3 separate regions of the Homo sapiens genome follow, and all the other regions are linked to region 1. The links come from fine-mapping of genetic effects on gene expression. A gene starts in region 1. Each other region holds a variant in brackets. All regions are shown on one strand. Distances are from middle to middle. Region 1 holds the start of MRPL15 (mitochondrial ribosomal protein L15). Region 2 overlaps LYPLA1-TCEA1 (LYPLA1-TCEA1 readthrough). Region 3 has its middle 26 kb from the start of MRPL15.

The links.
Region 2: its variant is fine-mapped to the expression of MRPL15 in whole blood (INTERVAL, PIP above 0.99).
Region 3: its variant is fine-mapped to the expression of MRPL15 in monocytes after LPS (Fairfax 2014, PIP 0.95).

What each region holds. Positions count from the first base shown.
Region 1 is chr8:54,133,174-54,138,350 of GRCh38, forward strand. MRPL15 (mitochondrial ribosomal protein L15) reads left to right here and starts at 2,068. Exons shown (of 5, transcript NM_014175.4): 1 at 2,068-2,218; 2 at 3,338-3,492; 3 at 4,095-4,260. The coding sequence starts at 2,111.
Region 2 is chr8:54,068,354-54,073,609 of GRCh38, forward strand. The region is part of intron 2 of LYPLA1-TCEA1 (LYPLA1-TCEA1 readthrough); the gene reads right to left. The region is part of intron 2 of LYPLA1 (lysophospholipase 1); the gene reads right to left. It also overlaps the pseudogene CRIPTOP5. Among named protein-coding and RNA genes, the nearest start is that of LYPLA1, 31 kb to the right of the region's middle. RefSeq lists an enhancer at 2,864-2,963. The variant C/A (reference allele first, on the strand shown) is at 3,105.
Region 3 is chr8:54,159,111-54,164,366 of GRCh38, forward strand. No RefSeq gene overlaps it. Among named protein-coding and RNA genes, the nearest start is that of MRPL15, 26 kb to the left of the region's middle. The variant A/G (reference allele first, on the strand shown) is at 3,043.

The DNA.
Region 1 (5,177 bases):
CAATTATATTTTGCAATTTTCTTCCCAAAGGTAGGAAAGTTTAATAAAAACACAATGAAAACTACTGAATTAAAAATCACTAAAGGCAGGCTGGACTCAGTGGCTCACACCTGTAATCCCAGCACTTTGGGAGGCCAAGGCAGGTGGATCATTTGAGGTTAGGAGTTTCAGACAAGCCTGGCCAACGTGGTGAAACCCAGTCTCTACTAAAAAACCAACCAAACAAACAAACTAAAAAAGCTGTACGTTGTGGTGCATGCCTGTAATCTCAGCTACTGGGGAGGCTGAGGCAGGAGAATCGCTTGAACCTGGGTGAGGAGCCTGCAGTGAGCCGAGATGGCGCTACTGCACTCCAGCCTGGGCGACAGAGTGAGATTCCATTTCAAACAAACAAACCAAAAATCATTAAAGGCAGAAAATAGGTTCTATTGCCCCCCACACCCCATTCTATTTCTTCTGTGCTTCTAAATAGAGTCTAGACTTTACCATCATATCATTTTATCGAACTCACATATTTTGTTTTTGCTAATTAGTCTACAAGAGGCCTACTTTTATCTTTAACTTTTAAAAAACATTCACGGGCCAGGCGCCGTGGCTCACGCCTGTAATCCCAGCACTTTGGGAGGCCGAGGCAGGGGGATCACCTGAGGCCAGGAGTTGGAGACCAGCCTGGCCAACATGGCGAAAACCCGTCTCTACTAAACATACAAAAAAAAATTAGCGGGGCGTGCTGGTGAACGCCTGTAATCCCAGCTACTCAGGAGGCGGAGGCGGAAGAATTGCTTGAACCAGAGAGGCAGAGGTTGCAGTGAGCTGAGATTGAACCATTGCACTCTAGCCTAAGCAACAGAGCGAGACTCTGTCTCAAAATAATAATAATAATAATTCACTTTTGGAAACTGTTCCCTACTAGATTTCAAACAACTTGGGAATGAAATCCTATTTGAGTTCATCCATGTGTATTTCCAACAAGTTCAGTGTCTTACTTATAAATAGTACTTGAAGGAATGAATACAACTTTTTCTTTATGTAGTTATTTTACACTTGATTTAAAGGAACTTTAAAAAGACGCAGTTATACCTAGAGACAGACGCCCTCCAAAAATTGTCTCACCTTCATTATTTGTGATTACTAGTTAGAGCTAGCAGAAAAAACTCCCCAGCAAGTGAAATGTCAAACCACTACTAAAAGAAAGAAAAAGAAAGGAACAGTCTTTTCTATATTTAAGTCACTTGAGAGAAAAAAGAAGAGCTGGTATTTTTCGAGTAATAATGTTCGTATTTTGTGATGCAGATACTCAATTTTACATTCTAAAAATACTACTTTTATAGTAGGAAGCAGTGTACGTTTGAATCCTGGCTCTGCCGCTTGTTGCAAGAAGTTGGTCAAGCTATCGGACCTTGCTAAGCCTTCCCTGTTGTAACTGTAAAATGTAGTAACACCATTTACCTCTAGAATGGCTGTAAATCGAGTAAGGCTTATTTAATACAGCGTCTGGCATACACCAGGCATTCAGTATGGCGCCAGTCATTAACAATAGGTGGTTACTAACTGCGATTCACTCAAAACAATACAGATGCACACGGATGAGAGTTCACACTTTGAGTCTTATTCAAAGATTGGTTATTAGCCAGGCATTTTGATAGGTGCACTCAGTTTTATTTTCGTACCTCACGGTGTATAATTACGCAAGCTCAAAAGCTAATAATTGACAGCTCACTTTGCTTTACTCTGGGTTCTGCATTGACCTCAGAGAAGACACGGCCTAGACAAACAGGCAAGGCCCAACACTGACTCAAAAAAGATCCTTTATTTAACGCAGTGTTTTTAGTGCATGCTCTCGTTTGGCGAAAGAGAAGGTTTTACGTTCAGAATATTAAAAGGGACCCCGAGGACAAAGCAGGATCTCGGAAAATAAGATCACATCCCCAAACAACTAAAAGGACAACCGAGACAAGGTTGCAGACTCCCACGCCTCTGCCCGACTCCCGGGCTTGCGCGCGCGGCTGCAGCGCGACAGGGGCGGGGCCACGGCCACAAAGCAGCCCCCGAGACCACGTGGCCTCCGAGCAGCTCAGGGCGCCCTTGAAAGTTCTTGGATCTGCGGGTTATGGCCGGTCCCTTGCAGGGCGGTGGGGCCCGGGCCCTGGACCTACTCCGGGGCCTGCCGCGTGTGAGCCTGGCCAACTTAAAGCCGAATCCCGGCTCCAAGAAACCGGTAAATGGGTGGTGGCGGTGCGGGGAAGCGCTGGGGACCCGGGCGATGAAAGCGGCCCTTCTCTCCCTGTCATTAGGAGAACTGCCCTTTCTAGGAGAGTGTTGGGATGAAAATAGGATTGCCTCATGCCTGTTCTCCCTTACTGCCCAGAGGGGAATCTTTCCACGTGCACCCAGTTCTTTTTTTTTTTTTTTTTTTTTTTTCCGAGACGGAGGCTTGCTCTGTCGCCCAGAAGCAATTCTCCTGCCTCAGCCTCCCGATTAGCTGGGATTACAGGCGCCCGCCATCACGCCCGGCTAATTTTTGTATTTTTAGTAGAGACGTGGTTTCACCGTGTTGGCCAGGCTGGTTTTGAACTCCTGAGCTCGCGATCCGCCTGCCTCGGCCTCCCAAAGTGCTGGGATTACAGGCGTGAGCCACCGCCCCCGGCCGCACCCAGTTCTTAATAAGGTTATGTTTACAAGTGTAAAGATACCAGGCGGAGAAGCCGACTCGCTGAAACTACAAAGTCTTTGTGTCATTCAAAATTGGATTTAAAATGAAATGTTTTCCCGGTGTATCTTTATGTTCATTGGAAAGATCTGAATTGCAGCTGTCCCTTCTGCAGTTGACTAAATAGAGCTAGAAAAGCTGTTAGTTGACAATGTACTGTCATTTTAACAGTCAGTTCATTGCTTTCGTGAAATGACAGGAAATTAAGGAAAAGATTTTCTTCAACAGATCAGTTTTCAAATAAAATTACAGGTTTATGAATAACATTTGCATATTTACAATTAATTTCAGAATAAATTCTTGCCTATCATTTAAAATGTTGTGAATATTTAATTCTAGGATTTTTTTCGGTTTCAACCTATTATAAAAACCTTATCCCCATCCTAACCTTTACTTTTTGCTTTTGAAACACACTTGGACTTTGGTTACAAGAATTAGCTATGTCTTTAGAGGCAAAGATGCTAACAGAGTGTGTGGAGCTTTGAGCAACTAGGACATGCTTGACACAATAGTGTTAGCTAGCACTGGTGGGCTGGATGAATGAACAGCATAACAAAAAGTGAAGAGCTGAAATGCAGTTTTTAGAAATGCATCTGAAATTCATAAAATTCTTTTTTTTCCTTGCAGGAGAGAAGACCAAGAGGTCGGAGAAGAGGTAGAAAATGTGGCAGAGGCCATAAAGGAGAAAGGCAAAGAGGAACCCGGCCCCGCTTGGGCTTTGAGGGAGGCCAGACTCCATTTTACATCCGAATCCCAAAATACGGGTTTAACGAAGGACATAGGTAAGGTTGCTTTGCTTTTTAAAGTACAGGTCCCCAATTTCCATTAAAAAGCACCTAAAAATAGTTTGGTAGAAATTTTGGTGGAAATTGTAAATTCACTTTGAAGCAAACTTTTGCTACTGTTCCCCTGAACCATTTTTTGGTAATGAAATCTTGCCTGGATTATTAAAAGGAAAAGAGGCCCAGACACTGCACTTAGACCTGCAAAATGGAGATTCTAATGCCAGCTCTAATGGTTATTAAAAGAGTGAGCAATAATAGACAGTATACATAAAAATCTGGCCCACTGTAGTCACCTAATAAATGATAACTACCATTATTACTTTGAGCTCCATAGTAAGTTAAATTTTCCACAGATTTATTTGTGTAAATAAGTGAAGTAAATGCTTAGAGAGGGAAATAATTTTTAGTGGAACAAAGGTGGTACAGGTTTGTTTTCATTACCCAAAATCAAGCAGTATTACATGTTTGTGTTACACTCAAGAGGGTTTTGTTTAGTTAAATAAAATTGGTGGAGGAAAACACAAGACAAAGCTTTGAGTTGATTTCGAGAAGTTACAGGAAGATGAGAGTTTTCCAACTCTTACATTCTTGTTTTACAGTTTCAGACGCCAGTATAAGCCTTTGAGTCTCAATAGACTGCAGTATCTTATTGATTTGGGTCGTGTTGATCCTAGTCAACCTATTGACTTAACCCAGCTTGTCAATGGGAGAGGTGTGACCATCCAGCCACTTAAAAGGGATTATGGTGTCCAGCTGGTTGAGGAGGTAAGTCTTGATTAGATCTTTTGGTGTTATATAGGAGGATTTTTTTTTTAGACAGAGTCTTGCCCTGTTGCCTGAGCTGGAGTACAGTGGCGCAATCTCGGCTCCTGCAACCTCCACCTCACAAGTTCAAGTGATTCTCCTGCCTCAGCCTCCTGAATAGCTGGGATTACAGGCACCCACCACCATGCCCAGCTAATTTTATTTGTTTTTAGTAGAGACAGGGTTTCACTATGTTGGCCAGGCTGATCTTGAACTCCTGACCTTAAGTGATCTGCTCACCTCGGCCTCCCAAAGTGCTGGAATTACAGGTGTGAGCCACCATGCCTGGCCCGTAGGAGATATTTTTGATTTCCAGATAATCAGTACTCTACCCCCTTTATTTTTAGCCCATTTGTGTTTATAACTGTTATGTAGTGGTGATAGCTGTGGTTTTGGAAAGCTGTCATACTATCATGGCAGGGCTCTGTCCCTTGGTCCTGGAATGCTGCTCTTCTGCATATCTGTAAAGCTTGCCTTCTTTTTTTTTTGTTTTTGTTTTTGAGATGGAGTCTCGCTCTGTTGCCCAGGCTGGAGTGCAGTGGCACGATCTCGGCTCACTGCAACCTCTGCCTCCTGGGTTCAAGAAATTCTCCTGCCTCAGCCTCCTGAGTAGCTGGGACTATAGTCGTGCGCCACCACACCCGGCTAATTTTTTATATTTTTAGTAGAGATGGAGTTTCGCCATATTGGCCAAGCTGGTCTTGAACACCTGACCTCGTGATCCACCCACCTTGGCCTCCCAAAGTGCTGGGATTACAGGCGTGAGCCACCGCCCACGGCGCCCCCTTCTTTTGGTTCTCTGCTTGAATGTCAACATATCAGGAAGATCTTTTTTTTTTTTTTTTTTTTTTTTTTTTAAATAGAGATGGAGTCTCACT
Region 2 (5,256 bases), 65 kb before region 1:
TTAGAACCCGATCTAAAATTTGTATGGAAACTCAAGAGACCCAGAATAACAACAACAACAAAAATCTTGAAAAAGAACAAAATTAGAGGACTCACACTTCTTAATCTCAAAAATTCCTACCAAGTAACATTCAGAAAGACTAGTACTAGAGTACAGACAGACATATAAATCAACCGAAAATCCAGAAATAAAACCTCACATTTACTGTCAAACTTATTTCTGAAACAAATCAACAGGGAAGGAATAGTCTTTTTAACAAAAGTAGCTGGGACAAGTGGATATCCACATGTAATACAAAGAAGTTGGACTGCTACCTCATACCATATGTAAACACTGACCAAATACCTAAATGTAAGAGATAAAACTATAAAACTAGAAGAAAACACACATACATCTTTGTGACCTCAGATCTGGCAATTTCTTAGATATAACATCAAAAGCACAACCGACAAGAAAAAAATAGATAAATTAGAAATCATCAAAATTAACTGTTGTGTTTCAAAGGACACTATGAAGAAAATGAAAAGACAACTTACATAGTGGGAAAAATGTTTGCAAATCACATCTAATTAAAGTGTCTAGTATCCATAATAAAAAAAACTTGCAACTCACAAACAAAAAGACAACCCAATTAAAAAATATGCAAAAGACTTGATGAGATGTTTGTCCAAAGAAGATATACAAATGGCCAAAAAGCACAGGAAAAGATGCTGAACATCATTAGTCATTAAGGAAACATAAATCAAAGCCCCAATGATACATCACTTCATACTCACTAGGATGGCTATCAATATAATGATGAAAGGAATAAATTCTGGTGTTCTGTAGCACTGTTGAGTGAATATGGTTAACTACAATTCAGTGTATATTTTCAAAATGCTAGAAGAAAGGGTGTTGAATGTTCACAATGCAAAGAAACGATAAATGTTTGAGGTGATGGATATGCTAATTACCCTGATTTGATTCTTACATGTTGTATACATGTATCAAAATATATCACTCAGTATCCCATAAATATGAACAATTATGTATCAACTAAAAGTAAAAGGAAAAGAAAAAATACTTTAAAAAAAACTTTGGCCAGGCATGGTGGCTCATGCCTGTAATCCCAGCACTTTGGGAGGCCAAGGCGGGCAGATCCCTTGAGTCCAGGAGTTCAAGACCTGCTTGGCCAACATGGTGAAACCCCGTCTCTACTAAATCTATGAAAATTAGCTGGGCGTGGTGCGCACCTGTAGTCCCAGCTACTCAGAAGCTGAGGCTGGAGAATCATTTGAACCTGGGAGGCAGAGATTGCAATGAGCTGAGATTGTGCCACTCCACTCCAGCCTGGGCGACAGAGTGAGACTCTGTCTCGTTTAAAAAAAAAAAAAAGGAATATACTAAATGTCATGAATTGTTCACATTAAAAGGGTTAGTTTTATGTCATGTGAATTTTACCTCGAATTAAACAAAAAAGACATCTCAATAAAAAAATAGGCAAAAGACTTGAATAGACATTTCTCAGACAAATGAATGGTTAATACACCATGAAAAGATGCTCAACATCATTAGTCATTAGAAAATGCAAACCAAAACCACTGTGAGATACCACTTCATACCTACCGGAATGGTTATCGTAAAAATGACAAATAATAGCCAAGTGTTAAAGGGTATGGTGAGAAATCAGAACCCTCATACACTGTTGGTAGAAATGTAAATGGTGCAGCGACTTTAGATAACCTTTAGGTTCTCAAAAGGATAAATATGAAGTTACCATATCCAGCAATTCTATTCCTAGGTCTATACCGAAGAATAGTGAAAAAATATGTCCAGTACAGATGTGGTGGCTCATGCCTGTAAACCCAGCTACTCGGGAGGCTGAGGCAGGAGAATTGCTGGAACCCGGGAGGCGGAAGTTGCGGTGAGCCGAGATCGTGCCACTGCAGTCCAGCCTGGGCAACAAGAGTGAAACTCCATCTCAAAACAAAAACAAAAACACAACAACAAAAAACTTGTACACAAATGTTCTTTTTTAGCAGTATTACGCAACTTCAAGGTGCAAACAACCCAAATGTCCATCAAATGATGGATGAATAAACAAAATGAGGCCAGGCGTGGTGGCTCATACGGTAATCCCAGCACTTTGGGGAGGCCAAGGCTGGCAGATCACCTGAGGTCAGGGGTTCGAGACCAGCCTGGTCAACATGGTGAAACCTGTCTCTACTAAAAATACAAAAATTAGCCAGGCTTGATGGCGCATGCCTGTAGTACCAGCGACTGGGGAGACTGAGGTAGAAGAATCACTCAAACCCGGGAGGAGGAGGTTGCAGTGAGCTGAGATCACACCACTGTACTCCAGCCTGGGCGGCAGAGCGAGACTCCATCTCAAATAAAGAATAAAATAAAATAAAATGAGGCACAGCCATACAACGGAGTATGATTCAACAATGAGAAGGAAGTACTGACATGCTATAGCACGGATGAGCCTTGAAAACAATGTTAAGTGAAAGAAGCCAGTTACAATAGAACACAAATGAAAGAGTATAGGGTTTCTTTTTGAGGCAATGAAAATGTTCTAAAATTGACTGTGGTGATGGTTGCAAAACTTACGGTGAATACATCTAAAACCATCAAATTACACACTTTAAATGAGTGAATTGTGTGGTATATGAATTATATGTCAATAAAACTGGTACCAAAAATAAAGACGAAGAATGCATGACTGGACCCAGTCATGAGGAACCATTAGACAGACTCAAGTTGAAGAGTCACTCTGCAGAATATGCAGAACTGAAGGCTGTGGCTATATGCTTTAAAACTGCAAAGGAAATGAAAGAAGAACTGATAAACAGTTTCAGACTCAAGACATGACAGCTCAAATGAACACATACTCCTGGAAAGGATCTCAGGCCAGAAAGGAAACGGACACAGCTGAGAAAGCTGGCAAAACTTCAATGGAGTCTGTGGACTGGATATAGTGTTTAATCAATGCTCATCTCCTAATTTGGAGTGTTGTATGTTGGTTATGTACAAGTATCCTTGTGCATGGGAAATACACATGAGAGTATTTAGAGGTGATAGGAACATGTTTGCAGGTTTATCTCAAGAGTTAAAAAAAGACT[C/A]ATCTATATATACGTACATATATATACAGGGTGGGGGCGTGGACAAGCACACACAGGACTGAGTGCACACACAATGGAACACACGCAGTAAAAGATGAACCAAGGAAGCTCCATGACAGCGATATGAGATTTTTTTGTACAAAAAGCACACATTTTATTTTAAAAGTGTGAGTTACAATTGCCACAAAAAGAATAAAATACCTAGGAATACAGCTAACCAGGGAGGTGAAAGATCTCTACAACAAGAATTACAAAACGCTGCTCAAAGAAATCAGAGATGACACAAACAAGTGGAAATGCATTCCATGCTCATGGATAGGAAGAATCAATACTGTTAAATGGCCATACTGCCCAAAGCAATCTACAGATTCAATGCTATTCCTATCAAACTACCAATGACATTCTTCACGGAATTAGGAAAAAATGTTTTAAAATTCACATGGAACCAAAAAAAGAGCCCAAACAGACAAGGCAATCCTAAGCAAAAAGAACAAAGCTGGAGGCATCATGTTACTGGACTTCAAACTATGCTACAGGGGTACAATAACCAAAACAGCATGGTACTGGTACAAAAACAGACACATAGACCAATCAAACAGAATAGACAGCACAGAAGTAAGGTCACACACCTACAACTATTTGATACTCAACAAAGCTGACAAAAACAAGCAATGGGAAAAAGGACTCCCCAGTCAATAAAAAGTGCCAGGATAACTGGGTGACCATATGCAGATGATAGAAACTGGACCCCCACCTAACACCACATACAAAAATCAACTCAAGATGGATTCAAGACTTAAATGTAAAACCCCTAACTATAAAAACTCGAAAGACAACCTAGGAAATACCATTTTAGACATAGGACTTGTCTAAGATTTCATGGTGAAGACGCCAAAAGCAACTGCAACAAAAACAAAAATTGACAAATGAGATCTAATTAAACTAAGGAGCTATTGCACAGCAAAAGAAACTATCAACAGAGTAAACAAACATCCTGCAGATGGAAGAAAATATATGCAAACTGCGCACCCAACAAAGGTCTAATATCCAGAATCTATAAGGAACTTAAATTTACAAGTAAAAAACAAACCACCTAGCTGTTCTGTGGTGTAGCCATTCTTTTATTCCTTTACTTTCTTAATAAACTTGCTTCCACTTTACTGTTAAAAAAAAAAAAATCAAACAACCCCATTGAAAAGTAGACAAAAAACATGAACAGACACTTTTCAAAAGACAGGCTGGGCGTGGTCGTGGCTCATGCCTGTAATCCCAGCACTTTGGGTAGCGGAGGCGGGCGGATCACTTGAGGTCAGGAGTTCGAGACCAACCTAGCCAACATAGTGAAACCCTACCTCTACTAAAAATACAAAAAATTAGCCAGGCGTGGTGGTGCGTGCCTGTAGTCCCAGCTACTCAGGAGGCTGAGGCAGGAGAATTGCTTGAACACTCCAGCTTGGCGACAGAGCAAGACTGAATCAAAAAAAAAAAAAAAAAAGACATACATGTGGCCAACAAGCATATGAAAACATGCTCAAGATCATTAATGATTAGAGAAATGCAAATCAAAACCACAACAAAATACCATCTCACAGCAGGCAGAATGGCTATCATCAAAAAGTCAAAAAAGGTCGTTAAGGGTTGGGCCATCAGGAACTTGCGCGTCCATCTCAGGGAGACCTGGCCTTCAGAGATGACAGCATTCAGCCCCAGGAGGAGCCTGCAATTCATCCTCGGTCTTCCCAACTTGTGCCGCCCAGGGAGATACAGGACAGTAAGGAACTAAACAGAACCTGCTGTCTGAATGGGGGAACCTGCATGCTGGGGTCCTTCTGTGCCTGCCCCCTCTCCTTCTATGGACGGAACTGTGAGCATGATGTGTGCAAAGAGAACTGTGGGTCTGTGCCCCATGACACCTGGCTGCCCAAGAAGTGTTCCATTTGTAAATGCTGGCACGGCCAGCTCCGCTGCTTTCCTCAGCCATTTATCTACCTGGCTGTGATGGCCTTGTGATGTATGGCATCTCATAGCTTCCAGGACTCCAGAACTACCAGCATCTACACTGCCACTTCTATGCCAGCTGGCATCTGCTTTTCTATACAAAGTTACTATTAATCGACACTGACCTATTTACAGAAGTATAATTTTAGATATC
Region 3 (5,256 bases), 26 kb after region 1:
GAAATTCATATACCATAAAGTTGACAACTGAAAACAATTCAGCAGAATGTCATACATTCTCAGTGTTGTGCAACCACCTCCTCCATCTAGTTCCAAAGCATTTCATCACACCAAAAGGAAACTAATAGCCATTAAGCAGTCTGTATTCATCTCTCCCTGCCTCCAGCCCCTGGGAACTACTAATCTGCTTTCTTTCTCTTTTTTTTTTTTTTTGGAGACGGAGTTTCACTCTTGTCACCCAGGCTGGAGTGCAATGGCGTGATCTCAGCTCGCCGCAACCTCTGCCTCCTGGGTTCAAGCAATTCTCCTGCCTCCTGCCTCAGCCTCCCAAGTAGCTGGGATTACAGGTGCCTGCCACCACGCCCAGCTAATTTTTGTATTATTAGTAAAGATGGGGTTTCACCATGTTGGCCAATTTGGTCTCGAACTCCTGACCTCAGATGATCCACCCGCCTCAGCCTCCCAAAGTGCTAGGATTACAGGCATGAGCCACCACTCCCAGCCTATTAATCTGCTTTCTATCTCTACAGAATTATCTATTTTGGATATGTTATGTAAATGAAATCATACACTATGTGGTCTTTTGTGTCTGGCTTCCTTCACTTAATATATTTTCAAGGTTCATCCAATGTTGTAGCATGAACCAGTACTTCATTCCTTTTGATGGCTAAATAATATTCCATTGCATGTATATATGACAACTGTTTATCCACTCATTTGTTGATGAACATTTGGCCTGTTTCTACCTTTGAGTTATTGTGAATAAAGCTGCTGTGCACATTAGAGTGCAAGAAATGAGTCCCCGGTTTCAGTTATCTAGGGTATATGCTGGGGAATGGAATTACATGGTGATATGGTTTGGCTGTGTCCCCACCAAAATCTCAACTTGAATTTTATCTCCCAGAATTCCCATGCATTGTGGGAGGAACCTAGGGGGAGGTAATTGAATCATGGGGACCAGTCTTTCCCACGATATTCTCATTATAGTGAATAAGTCTCACACGATCTGATGGGTTTATCAGGGGTTTCCGCTTTTGTTTCTTCCTCATTTTTCTCTTGTGGCTGCCATGTAAAAAGTGCCTTTCACCTCCTGCCATGATTCTGCGGCCTCCCCAGCCATGTGGAACTATTAAGTCCAATTAAACCTGTTTTTCTTCTCAGTCTTGGGTATGTCTTTATTAGCAGCGTGAAAATGGACTAATATAGTAAATTGGTACGAGTAGAGTGGGGCGTTGCTGAAAAGATACCTGAAAACGTGGAAGTGACCTTGGAACTGGGTAACAGGGAGAGATTGGAACAGTTTGGAGAGTTCAAAAGAGGATAGGAAAATGTGGGAAAGTTTGGAACCTCCTAGAGACTTGTTGAATGGCTTTGACAAAAATGCTGATAGTGATATGAACAATAAAGTCCGGGCTGAGGTTGTCTCATGGAGATGAGGAACTTGTTGGGAACTGGAGCAAAGGTGACTCTTGTTATGTTTTAGCAAAGAGACTGGCAGCATTTTGCCCCTGCCTGAGAGAATTGTGGAACTTTGAACTTGAAAGAGATAATTTAGGGTATCAGGCAGAAGAAATTTCTAAGCAGCAAAGCATTCAAAAGATACCTTGGGTACTGTTAAAAGCATTCCATTTTAAAAGGGAAACAGAACATAAAAGTTCAGAAAATTTGCAGCCTGATGATGAAGTAGAAAAGAAAAACCCATTTTTTGAGGATAAATTCAAGCCAGCTGCAGAAATTTGCATATGTAGCAAGGAGTCTAATGTTAATCTCCAAGACCATGGGGAAAATGTCTCCGGGCCATGTCAGAGACCTTCATGGCAGCCCCTCCCATCACAGGCTGGAGGCCAGGAGGAAAAAGAGGTTTCGTGGGCCAGGCCCAGCATCCCCGTGCTTTGTGCAGCCTAGGGACTTGGTGCCCTGTGTCCCAGTCGCTCCAGCTGTGACTGAAAGGGGCCAACGTAGAGCTCGGGCTGTGGCTTCAGAGGGTGGAAGCTCTAAGCCTTGGCAGCTTCCACGTGGTGTTGAGCCTACAGGTGCACAGAAGTCAAGAACTGAGGTTTGGGAACCTCTGCCTAGATTTCAGAAGATGTTTGGAAATGCCTGGATGCCCAGGCAAAAGTTTGCTGCAGGAGTGGGGCCCTTATGGAGAACCTCTGCTGGAGCAGTGCAGAAGGAAAATGTGGGATCGGAGCCCCGACAGAGAGTCCATACTGGGGCACTGCCTAGTGGAACTGTGAGAAGACAGCCACCGTCCTCCAGACCCCAGAATGGTAGATCCACCAACAGCTTGCACCATGTGCCTGGAAAAGATGCAGGTACTCAATGCCAGCCCATGAAGGCAGCCAGGAGGGAGGCTGTACCCTGCAAAGCCACAGGGAGGGAGCTGTCCAAGACCATGGGAACCCACCTCTTGCATCAGCGTGACCTGGATGCGAGACCTGGAGTCAAAGGAGATCATTTTGGAGCTTTAAAATGTGACTGCCCTGCTGGATTTCAGACTTGCATGGGCCCTGTAACCCCTTTGTTTTGGCCCATTTCTCCCATTTGGAATGGCTGTATTTACCCAATACCTGTACCCCCATTGTATCTAGGAAGTAACTAGCTTGCTTCTGATTTTACAGGCTCATAGGCGGAAGGGACTTGCCTTGTCTCAGATGAGACTTTGGGCTGTGGACTTTCGGGTTAATGCTGAAATAAGACTTTGGGGGACTGTTGGGAAGGTATGATTGGTTTTGAAATGTGAGGACATAAGATTTGGAGGGGCCAAGGGTGGAATGATATGGTTTGGCGGTGTCCCCACCAAAATCTCAATTTGAATTGTATCTCCCAGAATTCCCACGTATTGTGGGAGGGCACCAGAGGGAGGTAATTGAATCATGGGGGCCGGTCTTTCCCATGCTATTCTCGTGGTGGTGAATAAGTCTCACAAGATCTGACGGGTTTATCAGGGGTTTCCGCTTTTGCTTCTTCCTCATTTTTCTCTTGCCCCTTGCCACGCAAGAAGTGCCTTTTGCCTCCCACCATAATTCTGAGGCCTCCCCA[A/G]CCATGTGGAACTGTAAGTCCAATTAAACCTCTTTTTCTTCCCAGTCTCAGGTATGTCTTTATCAGCAGTGTGAAAACGGACTAATACACATGGTAATTCCATGTTTAACTTTTTGAGGAACAGCCAAACTGTTCTCCACAGTGGCTGCACCATTTTACATTCCTGCCAGCCGCTCATGAAGCTTCCAATTTTTCCATATCTTTGCCAAGATTTATTATTGTCTGTCTTTTTGATTGTAGCCTTTCTAGTGGGTGTGGAGTGGTATTTCATTGTGGTTTTGATTTGCATTTCCCTAGTAATTAACGGTATTGATAATCACTTTCATGAACTTATTTGCCACTTGTATGTTTTCTTTGGATAAATGTCTTTTCCGGTCCTTTGCCTATTTTAAAATGGTACCATTTGTCTTTTTATTGAATTATAATAATATTTATGTATTCTGGATACTAGATCCTTATTATATATATTATTTGCAAATATTTTCTCTCATTCTGTGTATTGTCTTTTCACTTTCTTGACAGTGTCTTTTAATAAACAAAAGTTTTTAATTTCAATGAAGTCTAAATTATCTATTTTTTCTTTTTTTTTTTTGCCTGTGGTTTTGTTGTCACATCTAAGTTATGATTACCTAATGCTAAGTCATGCAGATTTACTCCTAGGTCTTAAAATTCTCTGTTTTCTAGCTTTAGCTTTTCATTTGAGCATTTAATACTTTTGAGTTAATGTTTGTATGTGATGTGAGGCAAGAGTCCAACTTTATTCTTTTGCATGTGGTATCAAGTTGTCCCAGCAACATTTACTGAAAAGAAATATTCTGTTCCCATTGAATTGTCTTGTATCTTTGTAGAAAATCAGTTGGCCATAAGTGCCATTGAGCTATATATGTCTAACTTTATACACTTGATACATAAAGTCTTATACAGTCTTGATTACTGTAGTTTTGTAGTAAGTTTTGAAAATAAGAAATCCTAGCCTTATTCTTCTTTTTCAAGATGGTTTTGACTCCTCTGGGCCCCTTGAATTTCCATACAAATTTGAGAATCACCTTGCCAATTTCTGCAAAAATGGCAGCTTGCATTTTGATAAATGCAAGCTTTAAATTTGTAGATCAATTCAGAGAATATGGCTATTTTAACAATACTAAGTCTTCTAGCCAGACATGGTGGCTCACTTCTGTAATTCCAGCACTTTGGGAGACCAAAGTGGGAGGATCACTTAAGCCCAGGGGTTTGGGACCAGCCTAGGCAACATAGTGAAACTCCATCTTTACAAAAAAGTAAAAAATAAAAAATTAGCTGGTGGAACATGCCTATAGTCTCAGGTACCTGAGGGACAGGCAGAGGCTAAGGTGAATCCCTTGAGCCCTGGAGGTTGAGGCTGCAGTGAGCCATGATTGTGCCACTGTACTCCACCTTGAGTGACAAAGTGAGACCATGTCTCAAAAAAAAAAGTCGTCTAATCCATGAACATGGGCTATCTCTTATCAGTATGTGTTTTTGTCTTTTATTCTATTAATTTGGTGTATTACATTGATAGATTTTCAGATATTAAACCAACCTTGTATACCTGGGATAAATTCCACTTGGTCATAGTATATAATCCTCTTTTATATGTTGCTGAATTTGGATTGCTTGTATTTTGTTGAGTTTTGCATGTATCATTTAAAATATATTTGTAGTTTTTTGTGATGTCTTTGGTATCAGTGTTATACTAGGCAAATAGAATGATTTCGAAGTGTTTCCTCCTCTTTTTTTTTTTGAAGAATTTTTGAAGAATTGGCATTAATTCTTTAAATATTTGGTAGAATTCACCAGTGAAGTCATCTGACCCTGGGCTATTCTTTGTGGGAAGTTTTTGATTAATAATTCTCTTGTTATACATCTTTTCAGATTTTCTATTCTTTTTTATTTCTCTTTTTTTCTGTGATTTTCTACTCTTCTTGAGTCTGTTTTTGTAGTTTGTGTCTGTCAAGTAATTTATCCATTTCAACTAGGTTATCTAATTGGTTGGCACACAATTTTTCACAGTGTTCTCTTTATTTTTATTATTTTATTTTATTTTTGAGACAGAAATGTGCTCTGTCACCCAGGCTGGAGTGCAAGTGGCATGATCTGGGATCACTGCAACCTCTGCCTCCCGGGTTCCAGCCATCCTTCTGCCTCAGCCTCCCGAGTAGCTGGGACTGCATGCATGCACCACCATGCCCAGCTAAT